Linked DNA regions of Homo sapiens: region 2 is linked to region 1. The links come from fine-mapping of genetic effects on gene expression. Tissue or cell type: minor salivary gland. Region 1 holds a variant in brackets; the other region holds the start of a gene. All regions are shown on one strand. Distances are between the middles of the regions.

Evidence for each region. PIP is the estimated chance that this variant, and not a neighbour inherited with it, causes the effect.
Region 2: MGRN1 starts here. The variant in region 1 is fine-mapped to the expression of MGRN1 in minor salivary gland (GTEx, PIP 0.96).

Annotation. Positions count from the first base shown.
Region 1 is chr16:5,143,847-5,146,690 of GRCh38, reverse strand. It overlaps the pseudogene ENPP7P14. Among named protein-coding and RNA genes, the nearest start is that of EEF2KMT, 47 kb to the right of the region's middle. The variant G/C (reference allele first, on the strand shown) is at 1,590.
Region 2 is chr16:4,623,603-4,626,274 of GRCh38, reverse strand. It overlaps MGRN1 (mahogunin ring finger 1), which reads right to left and starts at 1,449. Exons shown (of 17, transcript NM_015246.4): 1 at 1,227-1,449. The coding sequence starts at 1,314. RefSeq lists enhancers at 1-129, 660-1,189, 1,373-1,667, 1,190-1,720, 1,678-1,787 and silencers at 958-1,187, 1,428-1,607.

The sequences.
Region 1 (2,844 bases):
CATTCTACAGATCGGAAAACTAAGGTTCAGAGATGCTGAACAGGCTGGGCACAGTGGCTCAAGCTTATAATCCCGGCACTTTGGGAGGCCGAGGTGGGCAGATCACCTGAGGTTGGGAGTTCGAGACCAGCCTGGCCAACATGGCAAAACCCTGTCTCTACAAAAAATACAAAAAGTAGCCAGTTGTGGTAGTGCATGCCTGTAATCCCAGTTACATGGGAGGCTGAGACAGGAGAATCGCTTGAACCCAGGAGGTGGAGGTTGCAGTGAGCTGAGATCATGCCAGTGCACTCCAGCCTGGGTGACACAGCGAGACTCTGTGTCAAAAACAACAAAAACAAAAACAGATTCTGAATAACTGACCAGTTGCTCTGCTAGAAGGTAGGGAAGACAGACTTGGAATTGGGGCGTCCCTGGCCACATGGAACTCTTTCTACATTGTTTTCTGAGCCTGGAAGTCCAACCACAGGCCCCCCTCATGCAGTGCACCTCAAACAGAGAAAGGCGAGGCAAGGCAGAGTGCCTGGTGGCATGAGCCTCACTCCATCCACACAGCCACTTCTTCAGGGGTCCAGGAAAGCTTCTGGAACCTTGGAGATTCCAGGCAAATTACAGCTGCGTTCTTCTGGGGAGATGGCTTATCACTTTCATCAGACCCTCAAAGGGGTCCTTGAATCAGAAACTTAAAAAATAGGCTGGGTGCAGTGGCTCACACATGTAATCTCAGCACTCTGGGAGGCCAAAGCGGGCCTATCACCTGAGGTCAGGAGTTCGAGACCAGCCTGGCCAACATGGTGAAACCCCATCTCTACTAAAAGAAATACAAAACTTAGCCAAGTATGGTGGCACACGCCTGTAGTTCCAGCTTCTCAGGAGGCTGAGGCATGACAATCGCTTGAACCCGGGAGGCGGAGACTGCAGTGAGCTGAGATTGTGCCACTGCACTGCAGCCTGGGTGACAGAGTGAGACTATCTTAAAATTAAAAAAAAAAAAAAAAAAAAAAAAAGAATAGAAATTGAAAAAACAAAGCTGAACAACCACTCAGAGGAAGATTTGCTGAGGTAGATTTTTCTACATGCAAACTCTGACAGGCAAGTCATTTGGGGGCTCTTAGTGTCAGGAAGCAGGAGCCAAATATGCCTTTTCTCGAGAAAGGGGAAGCCACTTCCCAGTAGCGTTAACTTCATTACACTTAAAAGATCTCCCGTGGGCAGATCCTGGATGGATCCCTGAAGGCTGAGAATACGATGGGCACAAACTATCATAAAGCGTGCCCACCTTTTATTTATTCCCAGATTTTGATGAGAAGATATAAACAGGGAGAGCACATTTTTAAAATTACAGAATCACCCCACGGCTCTTCTACATTCACTGCCAGGGGCATAGAAATGGGTATGGCTTCAGGCTGGGCGCGGTGGCTTATGCCCATAATCCCAGCACTTTGGGAGGCCGAGGAGGGTGGATCACCTGAGGGTCAGGAGTTCATGACAAGTCTGGCCAAGATGGTGAAACCCCATCTCTACCAAAAATAGAAAATTAGCTGGGCATGATGGCATGCACCTGTAATCCCAGCTACTTGGGAGGCTGA[G/C]GCAGGAGATTTGCTTGAACCCAGGAGGTGGAGGTTGCCATGAGCCAAGATTGTGCCATCGGAATCCGGCCTGGGCGACAAGAGCAAAACTCCGACTCAAAAAAAAAAAAGGAAAAGAAAGAAAAGACATGTGTATGGATTCAGTGACGGGTAATTTGGCAAAATCAGATAGTGCACTGGACACAGGGGCCCACACCTATAATCCCAGCACTTTGGGAGGCCAAGGGGAGAGGATCACTTCACCCCAGGAGTTTGAAACCAGCCTGGGCAATATGATGAGACCCCATCTCTACAAAAAATACAAAAATTAGCCAGGCATAGTGGTGCACATCTGTAGTCCCAGCTACCCTGGAGGCTGAGGTGGGAGAACTGTTTGAGCCTGGGAGGTTGAGGCTGCAGTGAGCTGTGATCACACCACTGCACTCTAGCCTGGGTGACAGTGCAAGATCCTGTCTCAAAAAAAAATTCTTTTTTAATGCATGAACTTTCTTATTTGGCGATTCCACTTGTAGGACTTTGTCCTGCTGACATATTTGCTTAGCGGTAAGGGAAGTACATACAAAGCCATTCATTGCCTACAAATAACAAACTGTTGCAACATAAAATCTTTTTGGTTCACTCATTGTGGAAACATGTTCGTGTGCGCCTCTTATTTATAACCAGATATACCATGTATTGAGCTGGGGAACATTTACTCTGCTTCAACATTACAACCGCTTTTTGGCCACAGGTTGTGGTTAATGCCTATAATCCCAGCACTTTGGGAGACCAAGGCAGCAGGATTGCTTGAGCCTAGGAGTTCAAGACCAGCCTGGGCAACATAGCAAGATCCCATCTCTACAAGAAATTAAAATAAAAAGTTAGCCAGGTGTGGTGGTGCACACCCATGGTTCCAGCTACTCAGGAGGCTGAGGTTGGAGAATTGCTTGAGCCCAGGAGGTCAAGGCTGCAGTGGGTTATGATTGTGCCACTGCACTCCAATCTGGGCAATGCAGTGAGACCCTGCCCCCACTTCCAAACCAAGAAATAGGTTTCTTAACCTCAGCACTACTGACATTTGGGGCAGGATCATTCTCTGTTGCATGCGGCTGTTCTGGGCACTGTGGGATGTTACCAGCTTTCCTGCCCTCTACTGACTAGATGGATGCCATTGGCACCCCCGCTCCCATTGTGACAACCAAAAATATCTCCAGACACTGCCAAGTGCCTGCTGGGGGGCAAATTCACCCTCATTTGAGAATCAGTACCTTGAGAT
Region 2 (2,672 bases), 520 kb after region 1:
GCTGTGCTCTCCCCAGCAGGCAGGCAACAGTGCGTTCTGCCTAGCTCTGAGTCCATCCCCTTCAGAGTGCCCCCAAACTGTGCTGGTTCCCCTCACTTCATCCCAGTGGCCCCAGGCCCTCACCTAGTCACACCTTACAAAACCTGGGCAGAGCAGTTTTTCAAACCTGAGTGGACGTAAAACTCACATGGGGAATGGGTTGAAAATGCAGGTTCCCAGGCCCCAAGGGGTCCCAGGCAGGCCCTGGCATGTCTAGCAGTCCTCCCCCACTTGTGGACCTGGCCCACACTCAGAGAAATCTGGCCTGTGGGTGTCCGGAGACACCCAGGAGACTGAGACATCAGATCAGATGAGACGCCAGGATCTGAGGACCCAATCTAGATGTCCCCATGATGCCCAAGTTCTCTCTCCTCTTCCTTCTCTCCTTTCCACCACAAAGAACCCCACGAGGAGATGGAGGGTGAGACTTGGAGCTAGATGCTCCCAGTCAACACATAACTCATCAATAGAGGCAGAAAGAGAGCTGGGAACAAAGCTACGTGGGAGCCCCACAGCTGGTCCCGGTCCCAACTATGCTTCCATCCAGCTGAGATCTTGGCAGTCACTTCCTCCTTGGTGTCTTACGTCCCTCAGCCATAACACAGAGGCCCGAGTATCGGCTGGGTCCTCTCAGCAAGGACCCTGGCCCCTCCCGATCAACTATAATCGTCTCCTTGGGCCCAGCCCCACTCCTCCAACCCACACACCAAGAGCCTCCGTCCTGATGGGAGGGAAATTGCCCAAACCACTGGCTCGGCCTTCACACCAAGCCACTAAAGAAAGCGAAAGCCGGCCCCCGCGGTGAGGTCAATCTGATGACAATGAGAGTTTTCTAGGCAGAAGCGATGCGCCGGGACCCGCGCTCAGCACCCCGCCCCGCCCTCGGGGTTTCCCCCAGGAGCTCCCCCCTGTTGCAAGGACGGAGCTGAGGTGCCCGGGGCGAAGGGACTGCCCCAAGGTCACCCAAGCCGGGCAGTAGCAGCGCCAGGTACGGCTCGGGCAGGTTCCTCCGGGGCCCCCAGCCACGCCTAGGGATCGGGGCCGTGGGGCCGCGCGAAGGCTCGGGGTAGCAACGAGGCCCGGAGGGGGCCGAGCAGGGCGCCCCGCCCCGAGTCCCCGCCCCCGCGCCCGCCGGGTCCGCGTTCCAGCGCGTGCCTAGCAGTCCGCGCCTGGGGCCGGGCGCTCACCGGACTTCGGAGGGTAGCGATAGGCCGAGTTCGCCTGGATGTCGATGTCCTCCACCCCCGCGATGCGGCGGCTGAGAATGGAGCCCATGGTGCGCGGCGCTGCCGGGCAGAGGGGCCAGGGCCGGAACGGGAGCGGCGACAGCGGCGGGGTCCTCACGCGGACATGGCCCGGACCAGGCCGCACGGACGCTCGTCCACGGCCGCGGAGGCGCCTCGAGCCCCCACCCCCGGCTCGGCCCGGGGACCGACGCCACGGCGGCCCTCCGCCTCCCGGTCCCGGGGCACGTCGGGAAATGGAGTCCTCTCGCCGCCGAAGGCGCCGGGAAGCAGCGCGGGAAGCCCGTCTGGGAACTATCTTTCCCAGGATGCTCCGTTCCCAGGCCCTCTGACGGGTTGACAAGCACTCCGGGACAAACCAAATGGACCTAAATTCAGAGGGAAGGAACCAACCAACCACAGGGCAAATGGTCCTTCCCTCTGCGTTCCAAGCGCTGCACTAACATATTAACTCTTTGGTCATTTCCTCATCTGTTCGCTTACAGACTCTCCTGGAGCCCCAGCGCCTTCCACTTGCCCCCTCTGAAATAGCTCCCTGAGTCGCTGTGGTTCTCCCCACTCCCCTGAGTTTGTCTCCCGCCCCGACCGGCAGAGGGCGTAGCTGCACCTGCCACCCGGAGCCCACTTGCAGGGTGTGCACGGAAGAAGTGAAGCACCTGCTTTGGCCTTGGCCAGAATTTGAGGACTACCATTTGGGGACTTCTGAACCAGGTGTGGTTCTGAGAGCTGTATAGGCATCAGCCCGTTTTACAGATGAGGAAGCTGGGATCCAGGGGGTTAAGCAACCTCCGGCCCCCTGACAAGGCTGAGGCCCGGTGCAGTGGCTCACCTGTAATCCCGATACTTTGGCCCCACGTCTGGACCAATTAGTTTAAAGACATAATTTCACAGCCTCCACGGAAGGCAGTAGACTCTCCCACATTTTACACACAGGGAAACTGAGGCACAGAGGAGAGAGAGCCGCATGAAATGGCGCTGCGGGCAAGATTGCAAGAATCGCTTTCAGAATGAAAACCTCGCAGTGTGCAAGGTGTTCCCTGGCTTTTGAGTCACACACAGCTCTGCAAATAGATCGCTTTTTACCTACTTTTCAGTTGAGGAACTTGGATTCTGAGCAGAGTGATTTCCCAAGTCAAGCCTGCTGTACCAAGAAAGCAGCTAGGGAGGGCAAGGCAGACTGAGTCTCCAATGGTCAATTCACCACAGTCCATGTGGAAATGCTTCTTATACCCTTCCAGAGACCACAGTCCAGGATCCAGTCTTCCTCTTTTTTTTTAAATTGTTCTGTCGCGCAGTCTGGAGAGAAGTGGCACAATCTCAGCTCACTACAGCCTTTGCCTCCCGTGTTCAAGCGATTCTCGTGCCTCAGCCTCCCCAGTAGCTGGGATT